Homo sapiens: one gene and its partners. The protein of the gene in region 1 interacts with the protein of each later gene in a pairwise test. Each region holds a gene or a part of one and is shown on either strand. Other genes may lie near its edges. The genes, in order: TMX2, FDFT1, TMBIM6, UBE2J1, MFF, C3orf52 and SERF1A.

Evidence for each region.
Region 2: the proteins of TMX2 (region 1) and FDFT1 interact in binary tests that used the Homo sapiens proteins (3 or more experiments, as listed by UniProt).
Region 3: the proteins of TMX2 (region 1) and TMBIM6 interact in binary tests that used the Homo sapiens proteins (3 or more experiments, as listed by UniProt).
Region 4: the proteins of TMX2 (region 1) and UBE2J1 interact in binary tests that used the Homo sapiens proteins (3 or more experiments, as listed by UniProt).
Region 5: the proteins of TMX2 (region 1) and MFF interact in binary tests that used the Homo sapiens proteins (3 or more experiments, as listed by UniProt).
Region 6: the proteins of TMX2 (region 1) and C3orf52 interact in binary tests that used the Homo sapiens proteins (3 or more experiments, as listed by UniProt).
Region 7: the proteins of TMX2 (region 1) and SERF1A interact in binary tests that used the Homo sapiens proteins (3 or more experiments, as listed by UniProt).

Annotation. Positions count from the first base shown.
Region 1 is NC_000011.10:57,715,593-57,719,092, forward strand, and holds part of TMX2 (thioredoxin-related transmembrane protein 2 isoform 1 precursor), read left to right. Parts: intron 1-2,256; exon of another isoform or gene 2,257-2,974; intron 2,975-3,500.
Region 2 is NC_000008.11:11,819,741-11,823,240, forward strand, and holds part of FDFT1 (squalene synthase), read left to right. Parts: intron 1-2,009; coding exon 2,010-2,138; intron 2,139-3,500. UniProt on the Homo sapiens protein: Catalyzes the condensation of 2 farnesyl pyrophosphate (FPP) moieties to form squalene. Proceeds in two distinct steps.
Region 3 is NC_000012.12:49,758,557-49,761,995, reverse strand, and holds part of TMBIM6 (bax inhibitor 1), read right to left. Parts: intron 3,314-3,439; coding exon 3,234-3,313; intron 2,776-3,233; coding exon 2,675-2,775; intron 293-2,674; coding exon 217-292; intron 1-216. UniProt on the Homo sapiens protein: Endoplasmic reticulum (ER)-resident protein that confers cellular protection as an anti-apoptotic protein by limiting multiple stress-inducing pathways surrounding the endoplasmic reticulum and mitochondria.
Region 4 is NC_000006.12:89,332,223-89,335,722, reverse strand, and holds part of UBE2J1 (ubiquitin-conjugating enzyme E2 J1), read left to right. Parts: intron 1-291; coding exon 292-421; intron 422-2,517; coding exon 2,518-2,637; intron 2,638-3,500. UniProt on the Homo sapiens protein: Catalyzes the covalent attachment of ubiquitin to other proteins. Functions in the selective degradation of misfolded membrane proteins from the endoplasmic reticulum (ERAD) and is essential for cells to recover from ER stress.
Region 5 is NC_000002.12:227,349,251-227,352,750, forward strand, and holds part of MFF (mitochondrial fission factor), read left to right. Parts: intron 1-3,263; coding exon 3,264-3,323; intron 3,324-3,500. UniProt on the Homo sapiens protein: Plays a role in mitochondrial and peroxisomal fission. Promotes the recruitment and association of the fission mediator dynamin-related protein 1 (DNM1L) to the mitochondrial surface.
Region 6 is NC_000003.12:112,103,389-112,106,888, forward strand, and holds part of C3orf52 (TPA-induced transmembrane protein), read left to right. Parts: intron 1-3,500. UniProt on the Homo sapiens protein: Has a role in LIPH-mediated synthesis of 2-acyl lysophosphatidic acid (LPA). LPA is a bioactive lipid mediator involved in different biological processes, and necessary to promote hair formation and growth.
Region 7 is NC_000005.10:70,899,449-70,903,468, reverse strand, and holds the start of SERF1A (small EDRK-rich factor 1), read right to left. Parts: upstream 2,801-4,020; 5' UTR 2,600-2,800; coding exon 2,593-2,599; intron 1,645-2,592; coding exon 1,536-1,644; intron 1-1,535. UniProt on the Homo sapiens protein: Positive regulator of amyloid protein aggregation and proteotoxicity. Induces conformational changes in amyloid proteins, such as APP, HTT, and SNCA, driving them into compact formations preceding the formation of aggregates.

The DNA of each region.
Region 1 (3,500 bases):
TTTTCTTTTATTGATCATTCTTGGGTGTTTCTCGCAGAGGGGGACTTGGCAGGGTCATAGGACAATAGTGGAGGGAAGGTTGGCAGATAAACAAGTGAACAAAGGTCTCTGGTTTTCCTAGGCAGAGGACCCTGCCGCCTTCCGCAGTGTTTGTGTCCCTGGGTACTTGAGATTAGGGAGTGGTGATGATTCTTAACGAGCATGCTGCCTTCAAGCATCTGTTTAACAAAGCACATCTTGCACCGCCCTTAATCCATTTAACCCTGAGTGGACACAGCACATGTTTCAGAGAGCACAGGGTTGGGGGTAAGGTCACCGATCAACAGGATCCCAAGGCAGAAGAATTTATCTTAGTACAGAACAAAATGAAAAGTTTCCCGTGTCTACTTCTTTCTACACAGACACGGCAACCATCCGATTTTTCAATCTTTTCCCCACCTTTCCCCCCTTTCTATTCCACAAAACCGCCATTGTCATCCCGGCCCGTTCTCAATGAGCTGTTGGGTACACCTCCCAGACGGGGTGGTGGCTGGGCAGAGGGGCTCCTCACTTCCTAGTAGGGGTGGCCGGGCAGAGGCGCCCCTCACCTCCCGGACCGGGCGGCTGGCCGGGCGGGGGGCTGACCCTCCCACCTCCCTCCTGGACGGGGCGGATGGCCGGGCGGGGGGCTGACCCCCCCCCACCTCCCTCCCGGATGTGGGGCTGACCCCCCCACCTCCCTCCCGGACGGGGCGGCTGGCCGGGCGGGGGGCTGACCCCCACACCTCCCTCCCGGACGGGGCGGCTGGCCGGGCGAGGGGCTGACCCCCCCACCTCCCTCCCGGACGGGGCGGCTGGCCGGGCGGGGGGCTGACCCCCCCACCTCCCTCCCGGACGGGGCGGCTGGCCGGGCTGAGGGGCTCCTCACTTCCCAGTAGGGGCGGCCGGGCAGAGGCGCCCCTCACCTCCCGGACGGGGCGGCTGGCCGGGCGGGGGGCTGACCCCACCTCCCTCCCGGACGGGGCGGCTGGCCGGGTGGGGGGCTGACCCCCCCACCTCCCTCCCGGACGGGGCGGCTGGCCGAGCGGGGGGCTGACCCCCCCACCTCCCTCCCGGACGGGGCGGCAGGCCGGGTGGGGGGCTGACTCCCCCACCTCCCTCCCGGACGGGGTGGCTGGCCAGGCAGAGGGGCTCCTCACTTCCCAGTAGGGGCGGCTGGGCAGAGGCGCCCCTCACCTCCCGGACGGGGCGGCTGGCCGGGCGGGGGGCTGACCCCCCCCACCTCCCTCCTGGACGGGGCGGCTGCCGGGCGGAGACGCTCCTCATTTCCCAGACGGGGTTGGTGCCGGGCAGAGGGGCTCCTCACTTCTCAGATGGGGCGGATGCTGGGCGGAGGGTCTCCTCACTTCTCAGACGGGGCGGCTGGGCAGAGACACTCCTCACCTCCCAGACGGGGTCGCGGCCGGGCAGAGGCGCTCCTCACATCCCGGACGGGGCGGCGGGGCAGAGGCGCTCCCCACATCTCAGACGATGGGCGGCCGGGCAGAGACGCTCCTCACTTCCCAGATGGGATGGCTGCTGGGAAGAGGCGCTCCTCACTTCCTAGATGGGATGGCGGCCGGGCAGAGACGCTCCTCACTTTCCAGACTGGGCAGCCAGGCAGAGGGGCTCTTCACGTCCCAGACGATGGGCGGCCAGGCAGAGACGCTCCTCACTTCCCAGACAGGGTGGCGGCCGGGCAGAGGCTGCAATCTCGGCACTTTGGGAGGCCAAGGCAGGCGGCTGGGAGATGGAGGTTGTAGCGAGCTGAGATCACGCCACTGCACTCCAGCCTGGGCACCATTGAGCACTGAGTGAACCAGACTCCGTCTGCAATCCCGGCACCTCGGGAGGCCAAGGCTGGCGGATCACTCGCGGTTAGGAGCTGGAGACCAGCCCGGCCAACACAGCGAAACCCCGTCTCCACCAAAAAAGTACGAAAACCAGTCAGGCGTGGTGGCGCTTGCCTGCAATCGCAGGCACTCGGTGGGCTGAGGCAGGAGAATCAGGCAGGGAGGTTGCAGTGAGCCGAGATGGCAGCAGTACAGTCCAGCTTCGGCTCGGCATCAGAGGGAGACCGTGGAAAGAGAGGGAGAGGGAGACCGAGAGGGAGAGGGGAGAGGGGAGAGGGGAGAGGGGAGAGGGAGAGGCAGAGGCAGAGGCAGAGGCCAGAATTTGTTTTCATTCTTTATTTTCTTTCCCTAGCTTTTTATTGTTGTTGTTATTTAGTTTTTATTTCATAATCATAAACTTAACTGCAATCCAGCTAGGCATGTAAGGGAACAAGGAAAACACGGAACCCAAAGGGAACTGCAGTGAGAGCACAAAGATTCTAGGATACTGCGAGCAAATGGGGTAGAGGGGTGCTCTCCTGAGAGGAGAGCACAGAAGGAATGGTCTGGTGGTGAAGACAAAACAAGTCAAACTTACTAGACTTATCCACAGTCAGCAATGGTGATCTTCTTGCTGGTCTTGCCATTCCTGGACCCAAAGCGCTCCATGGCCTCTGCAATATTCATGCCTTCTTTCACCTTGCCAAAGACCACATGCTTGCCATCCAACCACTCACTCTTGGCAGTGTAGATGAAAAGCTGGGAACCTTTTGTGTTGGGTCCAGCAATTGCCATGGACAAGGTGCCAGGACCTGTATGCTTTAGGATGAAGTTCTCATCATCAAATTTCTCCCCATAGATGGACTTGCCACCAGTGCCATTATGGCGTGTGAAGTCACCACCTGATACATAAACCCTGGAATAATTCTGTGAAAGCAGGAACTCTTACAACCAAATCCTTTTTGTCCAGTGCTCAGAGCACGAAAGTTTTCTGTTGTCTTTGGAACCTTGTCTGCAAACAGCTCGAAGGAGATGCGGCCCAGGGGCTCACCATCCACGGTGATGTCAAAGAACACGGGGTTGACCATGGCTGATAGTACAGGGCTCCTGGTGGTGGCAGCAAAGCCTCTTTGCCCAACTTTTTATATCTGTTTAGTTTTATCTATATCATTGTTTTCCTCCATTCATTTATTCTGAAATAACCCCCCCTCTTTTTTTTTTTTTTTTTTTTGAGATGGAGTCTCACTCTGTTGCCCAGGCTGGAGTTCAGTGGTGTGATCTTGGCTCACTGCAACCTCCGTCTCCTGGGTTCAAGTAATTCTCCTGCCTCAGCCTCCCGAGAAGCTGGGACTACAGGTGCCTGCCACCACGTCTGGCTAAATTTTGTATTTTTAGTAGAGACGGGGTTTCACCATGTTGGCCTGGCTTGTCTCTTAACTCCTGACCTCATGATCCGCCCGCCTTGGCCTCCCAAAGTGCTGGGATTACAGGTGTGAGCCACCGCGCCCAGCCACAAAGGATTTTTAAAAAGAGCTTTCTGGTCAGAAGTTGGCTTAACTAAAAGCTGATATTCAGGCCATATATATATATATTTTTTTTTTTTTTTTTTTTTTGAGACAGAGTCTCACTGTCACCCAGGCTGGAGTGCAG
Region 2 (3,500 bases), on another chromosome or scaffold:
TTGTCCAACCTTTTCTCAAGGTTTTAAGTTTCCTTGCGATCGGTCAGAACGTGCTGCTTTAGCTTGGAGAAGTTTGTTATTACCAACCTTCTGAAGCCTACTTCTGTCAACTCGTTAAACTCATTGTCCATCCAGTTTTGTTCCTTTGCTGGTGAGGAGTTACGTTCCTTTGGAGGAGAAGAGGCGTTCTGTTTTTGGAATTTTCAGCCTTTCTGCTGTGGTTTCTCCCCATCTTTGTGGTTTTATCTACCTTTGGTCTTTGATTTTGGTGACGTACAGATGGGTTTTGGTGTGGGTGTCCTTTTTGTTGATATTGATCCTATTCCTTTGTTTGTTAGTTTTCCTTCTAACAGAGGCCCGTCAGCTGCAGGTCTGTTGGAGTTGCTGGAGGTCCACTCTAGACCCTGTTTACCTGGGTATCACCAGTGGAGGCTGCAGAACAGCAAATATCGCGGCCTGATCCTTCCTCTGGAAGCTTCGTCCAAGAAGGACACCCACCTATATGAGGTGTCTGTCGGCCCCTACTGGGAGGTGTCTCCTCCCAGTCAGGCTACATGGGGCTCAGGGACCCACTTGAGGAGGCAGTCTGTCCGTTACTGGAGTTCAAATGCCGAGCTGGGAGAACCACTGCTCTCTTCAGAGCTGTCAGGCAGGGATGTTTAAATCTGCAGAAGCCGTCTGCTGCCTTTTGTTTAGATATGCCCTGCCCCCAGAGATGCAATCTAGAGAGGCAGTAGGCCTTGCTGAGCTGCGGTGGGCTCCACCCAGTTCAAGCTTCCTTGCTGCTTTGTTTACACTGTGAGCATAGAAGTGCGTACTGAAGCCTCAGCAATGGCGGGGAGGCGCTTCCCCTCACCAAGCTCCAGCATCCCAGCTTGATCTCAGACTGCTTGGCTAGCAGCAAGCAAGGTTCCATGGGCATGGGACCCCCCGAGCCAGGCACTGGAGGCAATCACCTGCTCTGCCAGTTGCGAAGACTGGGAAAAGCACAGTATTTGGGCAGAGTATACTGTTCCTCCAGGTACAGTCACTCACGCCTTTCCTTGGCTAGGAAAGGGAAATCCCCTGACCCCTTGCACTTCCTGGATGAGGTGACGTCCTGCCCTGCTTTGGCTCACCCTCCATGGGCTGCACCCACTGTCCAACCAGTGCCAGTGAGATGAACCAGGTACCTCAGTTGGAAATGCAGAAATCACCCATCTTCTGCATCGATCTTGCTGGGAGCTGTAGACCAGAGCTGTTCCTACTGGGACATCTTGGAAGCAACTCTGGGTCTGAGTTTCTGTTTGTTGCCCTGATGTATATCCCCAGTGCCTAGAATGATACTTGTTACATAGGAAGTGCTTGATCCATGTTTGCACAAATGAATCTTTCTCATAATGAGGTTTCTCTAAACAAGCTGTTCTCCCAAAAACTTAAACCCAGCTTTATGTTGAAGCATCTCATTATACATTGGAAAGATGAAATGTGTAGTGAGACTTTGAATCTTCTTTTGAATCTAGAAACATTAGCATTTTTAGACCATTCTATTTTAATATTTATGAAATTTATGAAATAATAAGAAACATGAGGCCGGGCTCAGTGGCTTATGCCTGTAATCCCAGCAGTTTGGGAGGCCAGGGCTAGTGGATCATGAGGTCAGGAATTTGAGACCAGCTTGGCCAACATGGTGAAACCCCACTTCTACTAAAAATATAAAAATTAGCTGGGCGTGGTGGTGCATGCCTGTAATGCCAGCTCCTGGAGAGGCTGAGGCAGGAGAATCATTTGAACCTGGGAGGCGGAGTTTGCAGTGAGCTGAGATCGTGCCATTGCACTCCAGCCTGGGCAACATTGCGAGACTCCATCTCAAAAACAAAAACAAAAACAAAAAAAATGTGTGACCTAAATTAGGCTTATAGATGAACCATTGCAGTCATGATTAATTCCGCCATTGTTTGCCTTGTGATCTTTGGTGCCATGTCTGTACATATTTCATGATTTCTGTGTTTTTACGGTTTCCATTTCAGATCTCCCTTGAGTTTAGAAATCTGGCTGAGAAATACCAAACAGTGATTGCCGACATTTGCCGGAGAATGGGCATTGGGATGGCAGAGTTTTTGGATAAGCATGTGACCTCTGAACAGGAGTGGGACAAGGTTAGTCTCATAAAACAGTGTCTGTGTGTGATGTATTAGACAGAGCTGGCAGTCCTCATAGTGAAGCTCAGAACAAGAAAAGTTGTCCAGTATTTTCAGCCCCTCTGGTTTTACAATTCATCTGTTTAGGTTGAATGTCTCATCATAAACAGTTTATTCCAGAGTTAATTCCAAACCAGCAGCTATGTAGGATATCAGCCAGGCTAGGAGTAGGGTACTGGAGAGAAGTGCTTATCTAGACAAAGGGATGTAATTGACCATGAAGATTAAAACTACACATCAAAACATAAGGTAGGGTTAGGAGTCTTGCCTATTTTTCATAGGAATGGTGTTTGTGAGACTTACTCATCACTTCTGTGGAAGTAAAGACATTTTATTTATTTATTTTAAAGCCAGTCAGATTTAGCAGGCAGAGACATTTCAGACATCTAAAGTGTTGATGTATTTCATACCTTTAACTGTGCTTAAATTAGGATCTCCGAAAAGATGCTGCTACATGGTCACTACGTTAGTGTAGGTCCAAGGTCTTGGGCCTCTTAATTTTTCAAACCTCAAAACTTGACAGCAGTTATCTTTGGAACTGCTGATTTGTGCTTCCTAAGTTAACAGCATACAATGACTGCTAGAAATCAATTTCTGCATTTAAGGTGAAGTTAGCCGGGTACTATGGTTTACCTGTAATCTCAGCACTTTGGGAGGCTGAGGTGGGAGGATCATTTGAGCCCAGGAGTTAGACACAAGCCTAAGCAACATAGCGAGACCCCGTCTTTCAAAAAATTAAAAAATGAGCAGGGAATTGGTGGCATGTGCCTGTGGTCCCAGCTACTCTGGAGGCTGAGGTGTGGGAGGATTGCTTGAGCCCAAGAGTTGAAGGTTGCAGTGAGCCATGATTGTGCCACTGCACTCCAACGTGGGTGACAGAGCAAGACACCATCTGAAAGAAAATAAAGTTGAAGTTAAAACTTCTGGCCAAGAACCAGCACTGGTTATGATAGTAACTCATTTTCTGTTGTGCAGATTTATTCAGGAAACTTAATTTTAGGTTGTTGAATAGAAGTTTTGATCAGATAAAATTGAATTAAAAAAAATTTTTTTTGAGACAGGGTCTTGCTGTTATCCAGGCTGGTGTGTAGTGGTGTGATCACGGCTCCCCGCAGCCTCAACCTCCTGGGCTCAGGTGATCCTCCCACCTCAGCCTACCGAGTAGCTGTAACTACAGTGCATGACACCATACCAGGCTCATTTTTGTACATTTTTTGTAGAGAGAGGGTTTTGCCATGTTGCCCAGGCTAGTCTCAAACTCCTGGCATCAAACAGTCCTCCCACTCTGGCCTCTCAAATGTTGGGATTACAGGCATGACC
Region 3 (3,439 bases), on another chromosome or scaffold:
TACTAAACGCAGGAATTAGTTAAAAAAATTTTTTTTTCACTTGCTGCTTTTTTTCTAACAACTGAAGACTTCTGGCTTACCTCTTACTCAGTGGCCTGCCTTACAGTTACCCTGGACCTAACACAGTGTGTGAGCAAGTTTTCAAATCTGAAGTATACACACATGCCAAGCTCAGGAGCCATTATTGTCTCATCTTTGGGTTGTAGGCTAACTAACCTTTTCATTCATGGCCAGGATCATCATGAGTTTTCTGAAGACAGTAATGAAATCTAAGAAGAGATCAATGCAGTGCCTGAAAGGCAAGAACCAGATTAGGATCTGTACTTCAGACTTTTTTATCCACAAGCCCACAAAGATGCAGAATATAAACCCCACCCCTACCCCCACGAGCCAGCTTCTCCCACACTTTACCCCCAACTAAGGAAGTAAAACTCTGGTGTCTGAGATCCTTTAGACTCATCGAAGTCATGCAGCATAGAGAAAAGAGACTGGGCCAGGCACAGTGGCTCATGCCTGTAATCCCAACATTTTGGGAGGCTGAGGCAGGTGGACTGCTTGAGCCCAGGAGTTCGAGACCAACCTGGGTAACATAGCAAAATCCCGTCTCTACAAAAATTAGCAGGGCATTGTGGCATGTGCCTGTAATCCCAGCTACTGAGGAGGCTGAGATGGGAGGAACACCTGAGCCCAGGGAGCTTGAGTCTACAGTAAGCCATGACAGTGCCACTCTCCTACTGCAGCTTGGGTGACAGAGCAAGCCCTGTCTCAAGCGCTCTGAACTCTGCAGAGGTCCAAGTCTGAACCCTTAACTACCACTAATTAGTCATGAGACTGAGAGAATCACTACATTAAAAAAAAAGTGCCGAGCACAGTGGCTCACACCTGTAATCCCAGCACTTTGGAAGGCTGAGGCGGGCATCACCTGAGTCAGGAGTTTGAGACCAGCCTGACCAACATGGAGAAACCCCATCTCTACTAAAAATACAAAATTAGCCGGGCATGGTGGTGCATGCCTGTAATCCCAGCTACTCAGGATGTTAAGGCAGGAGAAACACCTGAAGCCGGGAGACGGAGGCTGCGGTGAGCCAAGATCACACCGTTGCACTCCAGCCTGGGCAACAAGAGCGAAACTCCGTCTCAAAAAAAAAAAAGTGAGCTGGGCATGGTGGCCCATGTCTGTAATCCCACCACTTTGGGAGGCTGAGGAAGGCAGATTGCTTGAGGCCAAGAGTTCGACACCATGTCCTCACGGGGCAACGTGGCAAAACCTCGTTCTACTAAAATTACAGAAATTAGCTGGACGTGGTGGAGAGTGCCTGTAATCCCAGCTACTAGGGAGGCTGAGGCACAAGAATCGCTTGAACCCAGGAGGCGGAGGTTGCAGTGAGCTGAGATGTTGCCACCGCACTCCAGCCTGGGTGACAAAGCAAAACTGTCTCAAAAAAAAAAAAAAAAAAAAAAAGTGGCTGGGCATGGTGGCTTAAGCCTGTAATCCCAACACTTTGGGAAACCAAGGCAAGAGGACTGCTTGAGACCAATCTGGGCATATGGTAAGACCCCATCTCTACAAAAAATAAATTAGCCTGGCATGGTCGCACGTGCCTGTTGTCCCAGCTACTCAAGAGGCTGAGGCAGGAGTACTGCTTGAGCACAGTAAATTCAGGCTGCAGCGAGCTGTGTTCATGGCACCACACTACTGCCTAGGCAACAGAGCGAGACCCTGTCTCTAAAAAAAGAGTGTATCTTCTACTCATTGTTTAAAAAATACAGAAGTATAAATAGGAAAAGGAGAAAGATCTCTTTCCCTCACTTCTGCTTGGAGGTAGCCACTATGGATATGTAAATATATAGCCACCCCCCAACACTTTTTTTTTTTTTTTTTTTGAGAAGGAGTCTCGCTCTGTCGTCCAGGCTGGAGTGCAGTGGTGCAATCTCCGCTCACTGCAAGCTCCGCCTCCCCGGTTCACACCATTCTCCTGCCTCCGCCTCCTGAGTAGCTGGGACTACAGGTGCCCGCCACCACGCCCGACTAATTTTTTGTATTTTTAGTAGAGACAGGGTTTCACCGTGTTAGCCAGGATGGTTTCGATCTCCTGACCTCGTGATCCGCCTGCCCCGACCTCCCAAAGTGCTGGGATTACAGGCGTGAGCCACCGTGCCCGGCCCCCACACTTTTTTTTTTTTTTTTTTGAGACAGGGTCTCGCTCTGTTGCCAGGCTGGAGTGCAGTGGTGCAATCTTGGCTCACTTCAACCTCCACCTCCTAGGTTCAAATGATTCTTATACCTTAGCCTCCTGAGTAGCTGGGATTATATACATGTGCCACCATGCCCAGCTAATTTTTTTATATTTTTAGTAGAGATGGGATTTCGCCATGTTGCCCAGGCTGGTCTCAAACTTCTGAGCTCAAGCGATCCAGTGGCCTCAGCCTCCCAAAGTGCTAGGATTATAGGTGTGAGCCACCACACCTGGCCTATTAGCCCAGATTTTTAAAAAATCTGAAATCTTTCAGGAATTGAGGAAGATTATGGTACACAGTTCCAAAACCGTGGGTTTCCTACCACATACACTCCCAAAGCTTGGCCACCTATGTTCAGCCAATGCCAACCTAAGTTCAGCTGCTGAACGGTATGCCTCAACCTTCATGCTTGTTAAAGACTAGTTCCCACACTCACCAGATATAATCTTGATCTCCATGTTCGGCCTTTTCAATAATGAGTTGAGTATCAAAAAGGACGAAGCCACACATGACCACCAGTCCCACATACAGGTTTGCCTAACAAATGTAAGAGATGAAGTTACTATACAGCAGAAGTTGCAGAGAAAAAAAAACCAGCCATACTTTCTGGCTCATAGTCACTTGAAAGTACATCAAATGTGAACCCTATGAACATTACCATTCACGAGAACTGCAGCCTAGGGTGAAGACCACTTTACTTCCCTAGGCACAATACTGCACTGGTCACTGGAAGAGTTTCAATCATTTTAACAATCAGCCACTGCCAGACTGGCCTTACACAAATGGTGTCTGAGCAAACCATTTTCTCTTAGCAATGCCCAACCTTGTGCAGCCTGTTTTCACTTGTGGCAGAAGGCTCCATCCTATGAAGGATAATGGGAAGGCTTAGAGAGCACTGCCCAAAGTAGTACAGAAAGAAGTGCAAAAAAAAAAAAAAAAGGAAAGAAAGAAGTGTGAGGCAAATGGCTGCTGGAAAGTTCCAGGCTAAGTCTTACCTGGAAAAGCCAAATGGATCCAAAGAAAACATTCCCCAGGGAAGACAAAAGCAACAAGCTCAGGGCTGACATCAAGATACCTATAAGACACAGCAAAAAGCTGTCTTGAGAGAAGCCAAGGCAAAGTAAAGCAATCCCATTAAAGCCATTCCTTAACTTCCCCCAGAATGAAGGTTAATCTCAACTCAATAGTCGCAAAGGAGTTA
Region 4 (3,500 bases), on another chromosome or scaffold:
AATAGACAATTTTCTCATTGTATAGATGTAAAACTTATTTTTCTTTAGATAGTTTATTGGAAAAAATAGCATCTGAGCCCTGGATTTTTTTAAAGCCAGCCTAACATTTACTTGTCTCAGGACTATAATCATTACATTAATTTTCTAATTCATAGCATGTGGATAAATGTGATGTGGAATTTTCCAGTGTTCCTTTCTTTTAAGTTTAATGATCGAGCATTTGAGTGTCTCAGTGAGAGGGAATTAAACATTTAACTATTTATTTTCATTTAAAAAATCTTTTTCTACTAGATCACAAGATTTCTGTTGTGAAGGATGTGGCTCTGCCATGAAGGATGTCCTGTTGCCTTTAAAATCTGGAAGCGATTCAAGCCAAGCTGACCAAGAAGCCAAAGAACTGGCTAGGCAAATAAGCTTTAAGGTACTATAAATTCTTAAATAAATGCTAATCTTGCAACCCTTTTGTTTACTGCTGGATTCTGCATAGAAAGGAAAGCGATGCAGTTCTATTACAATATGACATTTGCCAATGTTTTTCTTTTTTCATATTTTTATATTTTTAATTTCTGTGGTTACATAGTAGGTGTATATATGTATAGGGTACATGAAATGTTTTAATACTGGCATGGAATGTTTTTCTTATTACAAAATTCCTAACTACATTCATGAAAGCTTTATAGAATAGTGAGGGAGTGAAACTTGAACTCTGGTATACAATGCCAGGGTTCAAATCCCAGCTCTGTTGCTTATTAGTAGTATGATGTCAGACATATTAATTAACCACTTTGTGCCTTTTTATTATCTATAAATAATAATGGTACCTAAATCATAGGATTGCTGTGAGGATTGAATTAATATATGTAATACATGTGTTGCATTCAGAACTGTCCCTGGTGCTTAATAAATTCTAGCTATTATTACAGAATATATAGATAAGCAACAAGAAGAAAATGATGGCCGGGCGCGGTGGCTCACGCCTGTAATCCCAGCACTTTGGGAGGCCAAGGCGGGCGGATCACCTGAAGTCAGGAGTTCGAGACCAGCCTCAACATGGAGAAACCCCGTCTCTACTAAAAATACAAAATTAGCCAAGCATGGTGGTACATGCCTGTAATCCCAGCTACTCGGGAGGCTGAGGCAGGAGAATTGCTTGAACCTGGGAGGCAGAGGTTGCGGTGAGCCGAGATCGCGCCATTGCACTCCAGCCTGGGCAACAAGAGCGAAACTCCATCTCAAAAAAAAAAAAAAGAAAAAAGAAAAAGAAAATGACATTCATAATCTCACCGCCAAGAAATAGCTACTGTTAATATTTTGGCATCCCTCCTATATATCCCTTTTTTCTGTATATGTTTTACCCGAACATAGGATTATATAATATTTTAATACTTTGAGTATTAAATATTTAATTATTGAAGGTATTAGCTGGGCGCAGTGGCTCACGCCTGTAATCCCAGCACTTTGGGAGGCCGAGACAGGCAGATCACGAGGTCAGGAGATTGAGACCATCCAGGCTAACACGGTGAAACCCTGTCTCTACTAAAAATACAAAAAATTAGCTCGGCATGGTGGTGTGTGCCTGTAATCCCAGCTACTTGGGAGGCTGAGTCAGGAGAATCGCTTGAACCTGGAAGGTGGAGGTTGCAGTGAGCCAAGATTGTGCCTCTGCACTCCAGCCTGGGTGACAGAGTGAGACTCCATCTCAAAAAAATATAAATAAATAAATACATACATACATACAGACGTAAAGTATTAAGTATTTAATCCTTCTGGAATTTAATTAGCTTCACAAACAGAAATGTCAACCTGCATTAAGCAGCATGCTCTCTTCCTCTTCCCTCTCCACTTCTCTATGGACTGTCTGTCTTTCCAGGTCCAGTTCCCTTCTCTTTTATTGTAGTGCCTGGAGGAGGAGTTGCTCAGAACATGTTTACTTTCTTCCTTCTGAGGATTCCTATTACACTTAAAATTGCTTCTGAAAAATCTCAGGACCAAATGTGTTTTGTACATGAGAATTTTTCAGACTTAAGAAAAGATCTTACATATACCATATATTAACTAACCTGCCGTGCGATCTGGGGCAGCACCTCATAATCAAATCCATTAGGATTTCTTCAGCAAATCTGGGAATATTACATTAATGTGGGATTAATGTTTACACTAATGTGGGATAAAGACTATTCATAGGTTCACATCAGCTCATATCAGGCTTTGCCTAAAAATTACCAAAAAAACCTTGAGTTTTGAGAGCTTTTTAGCATTGTGGATTGTGAACCATGGGTGTTAGTTTTGTCCCTCATCAAGTAACGGCTTCTTGAGAACAGGTGTTGTGTATGCTTCTTCCTATGATACCTAGTACAGTGTTGGACACAAGAGTGCTCAGTGATTAACTGCCTGATAATAGATATTAAACTAGCAATTAAAATAAATCCAACAGAGAGGATTTAGCAGGTTGTAGATTGTGTATGTTTCCTGTTGTTTCCTGTTGTCACACTGCTCTTGGGTCTATCTTGTTTATAGGCAGAAGTCAATTCATCTGGAAAGACTATCTCTGAGTCAGACTTAAACCACTCTTTTTCACTAACTGATTTACAAGATGATATACCTACAACATTCCAGGGTGCTACGGCCAGTACATCGGTATGGCTCTTATCTTTTAATATATATGTATGTCTCTATCATTATCACTGTTTGCAATAGGAGGAGAAGATCCTGGATCAAATATCTGAAAAATTTGGTTCTCTTAACAACTGGATTCTAACTCATCAGTCCCGCTAATGAATTATTATGTTGAGCAAGTTGTTCATGCTTTCTGGCCTCAGTTTTCTTTTTTTGTTAAATGGGGCTGGATTAAATAATTTTTGTCTTGTCCCTCCAGAATTCTGTGATTCTCTGAAAAGTTAATTTTAATATAGTGTTAGACTGAATAAAACAAAATATCCATATGTTAGCCACTTTCTAAATAGACACTATTTTTGGCAGGATTGTTCAGCTGCATTAAGGTACTGACTTAATAAAGTCGTAGAGCCAAAAATTTACTTAGACTTGCTCTGTCCAACACAGTAGCCACCAGCCACATGCAGGTGTCTACATTTAAATTTAATCAAAATCAAGTAGAATTTAAAATTCAGTTCCTCAGTCACACCACATTTCAAGTGCTCCATAGCCACATGTGGCTAATGGGTACCATATTGGACAGTGTAGACATAAACATTACTATCATCACAAAATTCTGTTGGACAATGCTACCTCGTATATACTAAGTGTCCAATAAATAATTGTTGAATAAAAGAATGAATGCTATGAGTGTTGTTAGTGGTGCCCTGACCTGTTGTCTAAGAAATTGTTTGGCCTAGGTGATCAGAGAGAGTGATTTAAAAAATATGACTGGATTGGTGCCAAAAAATAAGGATTATGGGAAAAAAATGATTTTCCTTCCTATATATAAAAGATTAACTGTCTTTGGAAGTCTTTTTGGTAACAGATTGTTTGGTTAAGTAGTC
Region 5 (3,500 bases), on another chromosome or scaffold:
AACTTATAAAAATATGGATTTTTTCCTCCATAATGGAAAAAAAATTGTGCCTCAGAGTCAAATGTATAAAATCAAAAATCGTATTAGTATAAACTTTGTATTTTTTTAATAATGAAAAATATTTTTGGACTTTCAGTGAAATTTTATTTCACTTTTTTACATTGTGATGAATTGATAACTCTAAAATCCCTTTTCTGGGAAGGAATTCTCTTTTCTCATTCATTTCAGTAAGTTTTTAAAAGTTCATGAAGGAGTTATATTAATAATGCTTTTCTCCTAGATCTGTAGCATTAGTTGTTACCTTGGAGCTTGGAGGGTTAGATTCTCATCAGTCTTATTGACGCTTTCAGTATTGAAAGGATTTTTTAAAGTTGTATTCACTTAGGATCTCAGTGTTGAGCAAGATTTTATCAGAATTTTAAGTGCCAAATCAGTTTTTATTTCCTTTGTGAGAAGTATCTGGCATGACTTTTCAGATATAAGAAATAGGAATGTGAAATTTGGATAATGTTCTACTTGCATGATTATAAAATAATACTGCTTATAAAATTTTAAGTGCTTCTATGTTCCTTGCTCTGTAGATCATTTTTTCTTTTCTATTTTATTACTCTTGGCTATTATGCTAATGCAATACCTTATCTTTGGTCATATGCCATCACATTAGGTGTAGTTAATTTAAACTAGAACTATTTGGCAGAAAAAGAAAAAAGCTTTCTGCTTGCTTTATCACTATGAAGTAATGCAGATTCACAATTCCTTGACATAAGAACTGTGTTCAGTTTACATTTTAAAGGACGCTGTCAAAAGGTTTGTGTACCATATATTTTTTTCTTACAAGAATGTAGATGATCTAAACCAAACTCAACGTGAAAACCAAGTTAAATCCTAGGTACATGTTAGAAAAGTTTATTTACACAGGTGAGTGTTACGCATTTGGAGAACTGATACACTGAAAATTTACCAAAGCACCAGGTGTGTCATTTGCTCAGGTGCAGCAGAAATTAAAATACTATTATGATTTGGTCCTTAACTGGTTAGAAAATGCCGGTCTCTCCCTGTATCTGTTAGAGCTATGTATCTCATTTTACAATGTAAAATATTCGCATCTTCAAAAAGAAACTTAGTTCCTGTGTAAGAACCTTATTTAAATATTGATAGATGAGTCATGCTTAGCTCTCATTTTTACGAGGGGCTTGATTATTTTTATGCAGTTTTTCCTTAACAGATTGTACCAGCTTTGAGTGCATAGAATAAGAAACCAATGTATGAATAATTTATATTTTTGGCAAGTATCCCTATAAATATACAGCTTGGAAGACCTAGAAATCCAGAGTTGCAGTGGATACAGCGTTTGTTATTTATAATTTTTCTCTTTAAAAAAGTGTATAATTCCTGATCCCCAATTAAACTTTATTTTCTGTAGCAGATTACATTTTTATAGCAAAGAAACACATATTCTGTTACGTCAGAGTGTATTTACTCAAAAAATGTCAGTACGCAAGTTAATGGCGGAGCTTGGTGGTAGCCTTGGATTTCTTTCCCTTTTGCCACTCTACAAAACATACTGTTGAGAAGATTTTATGTATTAAATCATACTTATCGTAGAAAATGGTACTTGAATGAAGTTTCTAACTTTGCCACATACCTGTCTAATTTACTTTTACAATATATGTGTCAATTGCCAGTGTGAGAAGACAAAATGAAATACGTTGTGAAAGGTAACTGTATTATTTTCTGGCTCTGCGTTATAAAAGGGAAATCTCTGTGGTGGAATAGGTTGAATATGACAGACCCATTTGAACATACTGTGTGCATTTTAAAAAGCTTTAGGAAGCACACAGTGATGGCTTCATCTAGTTAACCATTTTCATGTTAGTGCAATTTAAGATTGTAGTTAAATAACAGGTTTCCTAATGCCACAGAGTAAATATGTTAGTAGGATGAGATGAGTTAAAGACCTGTCTTAAGCATATGTGATTTCTCCATGTTTTTTAGCCAGTAAAATAAAAGTCAAACATGTTCCCCCAAAAAGTCTCTGAATCCCTTATCATCTAGGCTCCAGAAATTTCTTTAAGCACTGGTAGTACCTTTAAGACATGTAGAAGTTAAACATTAGAATTTTCTTACATGAATTGAATTATCAGAAAATAATTTGTATTGTAGTCAAAATTCCACAGCTGTGCCAACTTACAGAAAAAATTAGTGCATTTGGTATTAAACATTTACCATTATATAATTATTGTCTTGATACTTAAATTCAGGCAAAACCAGATCAGTTACTTAGAGAATGAGATATCCAAAATAGGATTTAATAATTCTTCAAATCTTTATATGGATCCAACACTCCAGTCTCCTTTCTCTGCTTAGTAAATATTGCTGATTGTTTTAGGGGGAATTGACCAGTGAACACTTAGAAGCTTTTGTTTTCTGATTTTAAAAGATAAAACGTATTGGAAAGGTTACTGCTTATCAAAGTAGAAAGCTAACTGTCCTCTAGCGCCAAAGTATATACTGAGAATGAGTGGAAATCCCCACCAAGTTTCCCATTGCACCTTAGTCTTCATTTCCAGCAGCCCTGTATGTCACTCCTGGCTGTCTCAAGATCAGACTCAAATTGTGGATTGCCCTTCCTGTAATGTGCTCTAGCACGTCTCCTGATCTCAGCTTCAGAGTGGAGGCTTGCATTTTCACTCTGGAGAGCTGAGAGTTTGAATGAGACACAGCTGCAACGAGACATCAGGCACTACTCAAAATTAATGAGGTGGGAGGGAAGGAAGTGTGGGAAATGGAGTTTCTTGAAATTTATGAATACGGTTTTTGAGATAGAGCTGTTGATATCAGATGAGCAACTGTGGTCATACCGGTGCAGCTAACCAGGTCCTGATATGCTTTTAAAGGTGCTAGTGATTTTTTTTTTCCAACTGGAAGAAAGGAATTACACTTTTTAAGCAGAGTTGTCCTCTGTCTTAAATTTCATAAAGTAAAGCACCAAGAAAATTATTTTATATGTTGGTGCTGTTTTGTCGTGTAAATATAGATTCCCTTTGTTTCTTTGATCAATAGTAATGTTGAGTTTATGAAAATGATAAAATGGAGGACACATGAGACAAGGATTTTTTAAAGTAGTTGAGAGATATTATATTGTATTGAAATATACAATATAATCCTATTTGACATTTATTTGTCTTGTTTTTGCTTTTATTTTATTACTTCTCTGTTTCCTGATTCTGTCTTGTGCCTTCTCCCGCAAAAACCTGCCTTAGACCTGTGTTGCGTGGTGGGTCTGCTGCCGCCACTTCTAATCCTCATCATGACAACGTCAGGTAAATTTTGAGACTTCGTAATTACCAGGGTAAATGCTTGGCGGAATTTGTGTGTTGCAGGGCATGTTGCATGTCGTAGCCATGCCTGTGTTTGTAGCTGAACTTGTTTCTACAGCTTTCCTCGATGAGTACATCTTGCTTCTCTCTAAGAACAGTGAATAATCAGTCATGACATTT
Region 6 (3,500 bases), on another chromosome or scaffold:
AGTAAATATCTTTACTGTAGTGCAAAGCCAGAGGGAAGATTCCTGGCCTCCAGCTGCATAAATGCTGGAGGACACTGTTCTTTTTACTCCCTTAGGTCCTACATTTAATTCAACCTATAGTATTCATTGAGGGTCTGTGATGTGCTAGACAGCATGCCAAGTGCCAGGGCCACATTGTCTGTGCCTTCAGGGGTCTCACAGTCCAAGTACAGGAAGTGACTAAAAAGATCGTTTTATAATAGTGTGGTATGTTCTAGTGTGTTGTACAGTGGCAAAGGAGGGGCATCTGAGCTACCTCAGGTGAAGATGAAGGCATGAAAGGCCTGTTAAGTGAAGTGATGCTCAGGATGAGTTTTGAAATGAGGTAGGAATGTTCTAAATAAAAAAGCATGGGACATTAAAGGATCTGCAAAGTAGTGTACTGTGGCCTTCCCATGCTTTGTGGTGACAGCTGGCAGAGATAAGGCTAAAAAGGAAGGCAGGCGTCAGGTCATGAAGGCTTTCCCACTCTTCAATAAGGCACCAAAATATTTTAATCAGCAGATTGACACAGTTAGATTTTTCCTTTTAGCCTTTCTGTGTTTTGGTGGAGAAAGCCAGGAGGAAGAGATCAGTTAGAAGGTGTTACAATAGTCCAGGTGAGAAATGAGGGAGACTTGAACTAGGGCAGTGTCGGGAAAATAAGGAAGATTTGCGTGAGATTTAAGAGGTATTCTCACTCAATAAGAGTCCATGACTGATTGGGTGGTGGTGAGGAGAGCATGACTCCAAGCTCCAGTTGAGTGATTGGGCAGATGGATGGCGGTGTCAGTCATGGGATGAGAAACCCAGGAGAATGAACCCTCTGTGGAAGATGGAAGCTCTGCAGCCAGACTAGGACCGTTGGGTGGGGCATCCTGATCATCCTGTCAAAGACAAGGTGGTTCACAGCCAGACCCAGAAATTTTGATAAGAAAATCTAGGCAAGAGCAGGCTGCCCTCCATTAAATTCTTCTCTGCCATTGCTAGGTTGAATGGAGTGAGTGCTGTTTATCTAACTTCCATTCGATTTGATTCCTACAAAAGCTCCTGAAGAGGCGATTCCATCCAGGTCACATCAGAATCAGTTTCTGGGTACCCACGCATGAGATTTCATTGCTTCTTTTATCACAGGAGTTGGTATCCTGTGATGATTACTCCAGATTTCTCTTTCTCCTTCTCTTCATTTATATCTTTAAATTTTTTTTAGATTGTTTAAATTTATTTATTTATTTTTATTTTTTATTTCCGTAGGTTTTGGGGGACCAGGTGGTATTTGGTTACATGAATAAGTTCTTTGGTGGTGATTTCTGAGATTTTGGTGCACCCATTACCCGAGCAGTGTACACTGTGCCCAATTTGTAGTCTTTTATCCCTCACCCCCACCACCTTTTCCATCAAGTCCTTGAAGTCTCTTCATTTATGTCTTATCTTCACCTCCTTTTCTCCTTTCCTTCCACCTGCTTCCTGGGGCAAGTTGCTGAGTGAGACGCTTCTTGCTACTTTCCTCTTGGCTGCTTTTTTAATGGAGAGGTTTTTGCATTTGCTGAGCAGAAATAAGATGAGTCAGCATCCACATGTGTCACCTGTTGCATAGTAGACTGTCTATTTCAAAGGTAAATGAATGTTCATTTTTCATTTTACAACCATATATCTTGCACAGAGTCAGATATGAGGAAATTCTGCGGGTATTTTGAGCTCATCACTAGGTAGTGGCAAAAGAACAGGGACTGACATTGATGCCTGTGGTGGGTCCACAGATTTCTTTGAGCCAGTTTCTTCGCTGATAAATGGAAACCAGTGCACTTTCTCTGTGTATCTCAGGTGCAAATGAGATTACATAAAAATAACTTGAAAAACATTTTAAAAGAATTATCTTATTTACAAATGATCAAAGTAAGGCATAGTGAGGTGACAGATTCCTGCCCTTCATTCGTCAACCAAATATGCTCAGGAACAAAAATTAGCACCTAAAGGTATTGCTGTCTTATTGTCAGGTCAATAACTCCTTTCTTCCATTAGGTCAAGTTTCAGAAGTTTCTGGATATAAAAGGTAAATGGAAGTGGGTATTTGTGGGGGAAAAATTATTTTTTTCTCTATACCCACATTCAATGCAGAACACTTCTTTGGCCGTGTGTGTGTGTGTGTGTGTGTGTGTGTGTGTTTTCCACACCAACCAATTATCTGCCACCAGCTGGGTGTCTTGCAATCCAGTTCAATTCTGACATGATCTGCCTGGAGTTAGTGCAGACCCCATAGTTTAAGGGTTCAGCCCCACAAAACTTCCCTCATTTAAGATGCCAGTTACGGGAGGCTGAGGCAGGCGAATGGTGTGAACCCGGCAGGCAGAGCTTGCAGTGAGCCGAGACCGTGCCACTGCACTCCAGCCTGGGCAACAGAGCGAGACTTAGTCTCCAAAAAAAAAAAAAAAAAAAGATGCCAGTTCAGTTACAAGTCTAGGTTGTCACTTGTGCTTCTGACCAACCAGCTGCAAATTGGAGGTCTCCAAAACCCCCACCTTGGGTTTGGTCATTTGCTAGAATGGCTCACAGAGCTCAGGGAAGCATCACATTTATGGGCACACTGTAGAAAATAGAGGATATCAAAAGCCAGATAAAAAGGTACATAGGGCGGACACGTGGGACAGAATGTGGGCATCCATGTCCTTTCAGGTGTGCCACTCTCCCTTGTAAATGTGTTCAGCCACCTGGGAGCTCTCCAGACTCTGTCTTTTAGGGATTTTTATGGAGATTTCCTCACATAGGCATGGTGGATTATTAGCTTGCTTTCCAGCCTCTCTCCCCTCTGGAGGATGGGGGTGGAGGTGGGGCCAAAAGCTTCAGATTTCTTCTTCTTCTTTTTTTTTTCTCCAGACAGTTTTCACTATATTGCCTAGGCTGATATCAAGCTCCTGGCCTCAAGCGATTCTCCCTGCTCAGTCTCCCGAGTAGCTGGGACTACACGCATGCACCATCCCACTCCACCACACTGGCTGAAAGTTCCAAGCTTCTAGCTGCGGCTTGGTCTTTCTGATGATCAGCCCCCATCCAGCAGCCCGCCAAGAGTTGCCTCATCAGAAATAAAGACACTCCTATAACCCAGGAAACTGCAAGAGATTTAGGAGCAGGTCTGTGTCAGGAGCTGGAGTAAAGACCAAATGTTAGAGTAAAAGATGTACCCGGCGCCCCTGTCACTCAGGAAGTAACAAGGGTTTTAGGAATTCTGTGCCAGGAACTGGGGCAGAGACTAAACAGTATACATATTGTTATTATATCACAGTATTGGAACTTTATGCCCTTTCCCTTGACTTTTCTAAACACAGGCCCTGCCATGTGTCACTGCCACAGTGTTTTCCTCTCAGGGTTGGGGCCATTACTCTGCTTAAGCCAGCCTGTGTGACTACCACACCCTGTGCATGGGTTAGGAGTTAATGATGGCACCTGCCTTATTCTGGAAGCTGGTCTCTAATTAGCCACTGCAT
Region 7 (4,020 bases), on another chromosome or scaffold:
GGCTCACTGCAACCTCCGCCTCCCAGGTTCAAGTGATTCTCCTGCCTTAGCCTCCCAAGTGGCTGGGACTACCCAGCCCACATACAGGTATTAAAAGATCACATGTACCCCCAAAATATGTACAACTATTGTAATTCAATTTTTTAAAAAAACAAAAAATCAAAACTGAGCATAACGCAAGGCTTGAGTAGCTGTCAAGGTTTCCCAGGTGATTCTAATGTGCAGCCAGGATTGAGAACCCCTAACAAGCCACACTGAAGCACATGCAGTCAGTTATTCGCTTAACCTCCAAGTTCCATATGGACAAAATCATTTGAGAATAAAATTAAGCTTTGATTAGCTCTTTTAGAAACATGAGTGTACTTTTTTTTACTTAAGCTGCAGTCTAAAGTATTTCTGTAGCAGTTTTACATTGGCACATATAGTCATATATTAAGGCTATGTACATGAATTCTCTCCAATGCAATGGATCTTCAGAAATCAGCACAGCTAGCTATTATGCATATACTTTTTTGTATCTTCTTGAGAACTATTATCATTATATATTAATAATTGAGTCCCTTGTCATTCAGAGTAGTTTGGGTAGGCTGTCTACTTTGAAAATGTTGTAACTCTAGCACCTCACAGTGTTTTGCATATAGAAGATGTTATTTTGCTGAATAAAGTTGTTTTTTTTTGTTTTGTTTTGTTTTTTTGATACAGAGTTTCCCGCTCAGTACCCAGGCTGGATTGCAATGGCACAATCTTCACTCGCTGCAACCTCCCCCTCCCGGTTTCAAGCGATTCTCCTGCCTCAGCCTCCCAAGTAACTGGGATTACAGGCATGTGCCACTGCACCCAGCTAATTTTGTATTTTTAGTAGAGATAGGGTTTCACTATGTTGGTCAGGCTGATCTCGATCTCCTGACCCCAGGTGATCCACCCACCTTGGCCTTCCAAAGTGCTGAGATTACAGGCGTGAGCCACCGCGCCCAGCCTATAAAAAGTTCTTATGGTTGTGGAGGAGCTGCATGAGTCTCTGTGAAACAAATAATAGCTTCAGAGCTTTACGTTTTTATCTATATGTTGGGATGTCTACCCCACGTGGTTTTAGTCCGCCTGGCACAAATCATTAGGCCCTGTTCTACCAAGGGCTTAACAAAATGCTTTCTGTTCCCCAAAATGAGGCCTTCTTTTTTTTTTTTTTTTTTTTTTTTTGAGACAGGGTCTAACTCTGCCATCCAGGCTGGAGTGCAGTGGTGCAATCGCAGCTTACTGCGGCCTTAACCTCCTGGGCTCAAGCGATTCTCCCGCCTCAGCCTCCAGAGTAGCCGAGACCACAGCCATGTGCTACCATGCCTGGCCAATTTAAAAAAATATTTTGTAGATACAGGGGCTGGCTATGTTGTCCAAGTTGGTCTCAAACTCTTGGCTTCAAGCAGTTCTCCCGACTCTCCCAAACTGCCGGGATTACAGGCATGAGGCAACACACCCAGCCCAAAATGTTGCTTCAATCACAACGTCAGTGACTTTAGAATTAAATTAGTACCACGTACCTCTGCTTTCTCTGAGAGGCAGTCAAGCTATCCTCTTTCCTCTTTCCCTTGCTAATTTCCTGGGTTTTCTTCATGTTTTTCTGGCGGGCAAGTTCTCGTTGATTTCCACCTACAAAGTCAAACAGTCATGCTCTTTTCCCATCTCCAAAATTATTAATAATTCCAATAAACAGGCCTTATTTAAATGCATCTTTAGTTTGTGTTTTCATAGATAAACTAGCAGAGTAACAGATTGATGGTGCTCCTAGATCTGACAATAAGGAAGTGGCTTAAACACTTAAAGACTTAAGAGTATTATCATACCAATCTAGGTGGTCACTAGCTATAAATACCAGATATTTTAAAACAGATATTCGAATCTTGGGCCGGTATCCCAAAATAAGTTCTGGCTTTTGAGGGGAGTGGGTGGAAGAGAAAGCTAGATACAGAGATCACAAGTTCAGCCCATCATTTGAGAGTTACCTTTATCCCCATGCAGAGGCGGAGAGGGGTGGATGGAGACTGAACAGATTGAAGGTAAGTCTGCGAAAGGCAGTGTGGGCCTTTACATCCTTATTCTAGCCACAACCCTGCAAGGTAGGCTTCATTGTTTTCATTTTGCAGAACAGACTGACCTAACACCTAGGACTGGTACAAACGAACATCAAATTTAGGACCGGCTCTAAAGCCTCCTGTTTATTCGGCTACTACCTGCGAGCGCCAAACAAAAGAACTAGGGAGGCGACTCACTGGAGTTCCCGGTCCTCATTAGGCCTTAAGACTTGAGGTATCAGCTATAAAGTACCTCCAAACAAGGACCCTCCTGGGGCGGCCGTGTCCACATCTCCGGGGTGTGTTCTTTACCGCACAAACTCGCACCTGAGGGGCAGGCACCCGTCCGGCCTGAAAAGCCGGACCGGAACCACCCGCGAGCTCTCTCTCTGCCGACTGAAGCGGGGATCCCCGCACTGCGCGACCCAGGGGGATTCTCCAGCCGGACTCCGCCTCCCCCGCCCGCCGCGCCTCAGCGCTAGGCTCCCACGCCGGACGCTCGCCGCCGCTTCCCACCCCCACTCACGGGCCATGCCGACCACCAACGGAGCCTGGAAGAAGAGCAACTCGGAAAAGCAACGGTTCTCTGGCACTCTGGGATACCGTCACCACCGCTGACCGGGAAGGCTGAGCCCTCGTGGGCCCTCCGCCCGGCTGCGCCTCCCCTCTGCTCCGCCAACGGCCCCGCCCGCTGGAGGCCCGACAACAGCCGCCGGCATGGCCGGCGCGTCACTGCGCGTGCGCGGCCGGGGCTGGGCCGGGGCTCCGAAGCTCGGCCGGGGCTCCGAGCTTGTTGAATTACATTTCCCTCATGCTACATTAGCACTAATTTTAAAAGGGATATACAATATGTATATCTCTATTATGTGATAAGTTAAGCTGTTGTATTCTGAAATTTAAAAGCATTATTTTCAGTGAAAAAAACCACACAAATAGAAATGTGTACAAAAAACTCACTGAATGATATTTCTTTAATAGTAAAGGCACAATATGTCAAAACCTCCTCTGTCCTTTTTGCAACGATGTAGAACTGCAAAGTTAGCTAATGTCATCTCCTAATTAAACAAAATCAACTGTGAGAAAATTAAACTGATTGCTTCACAATTACGGTTGAGCAAACACTCAGTTTGTCCCTATTTCATCTCCTGCTTTAGATCTTTGAGAAATTTCCCATTGTTTTGCTTCCTTAGATTTACAGGGAAGAATATCTTAATATTCTTTAATGAACTTGCATTTGTAGCATCTATACTAATGTTACATCAACTAGGCCTTATGCATACATATTTATAACTTAAAATATTCTGCACAAATATGATATATTTTAAAGTCTATACCTCTTATAAGTATTATCTTTTCTGCTGAAATTCAAGGCTATCAAATAAGTGTATGTTTTTAGAGTTGTACAGTGAGATTTGAAAGCAGTCATGATATAATCACTGTAATTTTTTTAATTAAATGGTGGCAGATAGGCCAGATAAATTGCGGGAAAGGGTCAGATAAATGATGTTATGAATGAGGTAAACTTTTATCATATTTTGTATTATTTGTTATCTATGCTTCTGTTTACATAGCAGGATGACTCTATTGCATTCTGTCATTAACACTGATTTGTCCATATCAGTGCAAGTGAAATCTGCCCTACCCTAAATGAACCAGTTATTTCTAACCTACACCATCAAGAAAAGGTTATGTCTATCAACCTCCATTACATATTATATAGAATATACACAATATACATTCTAGATATATGAAGTCTTTGCATACATCTGAGTTATGCGTATGAGTATACATTTATATATACTTATATATATGTTTAAGATATATATTTCTGAGGATCCATATATGTCAGTGAACATGTACTCAATGAACTTTCATTATTGTGCAAACATAAACAGTGCAGTGTTATGGGATATTCCAACCAATTATAAGATCAAATCTCTTCACTTATTCTATT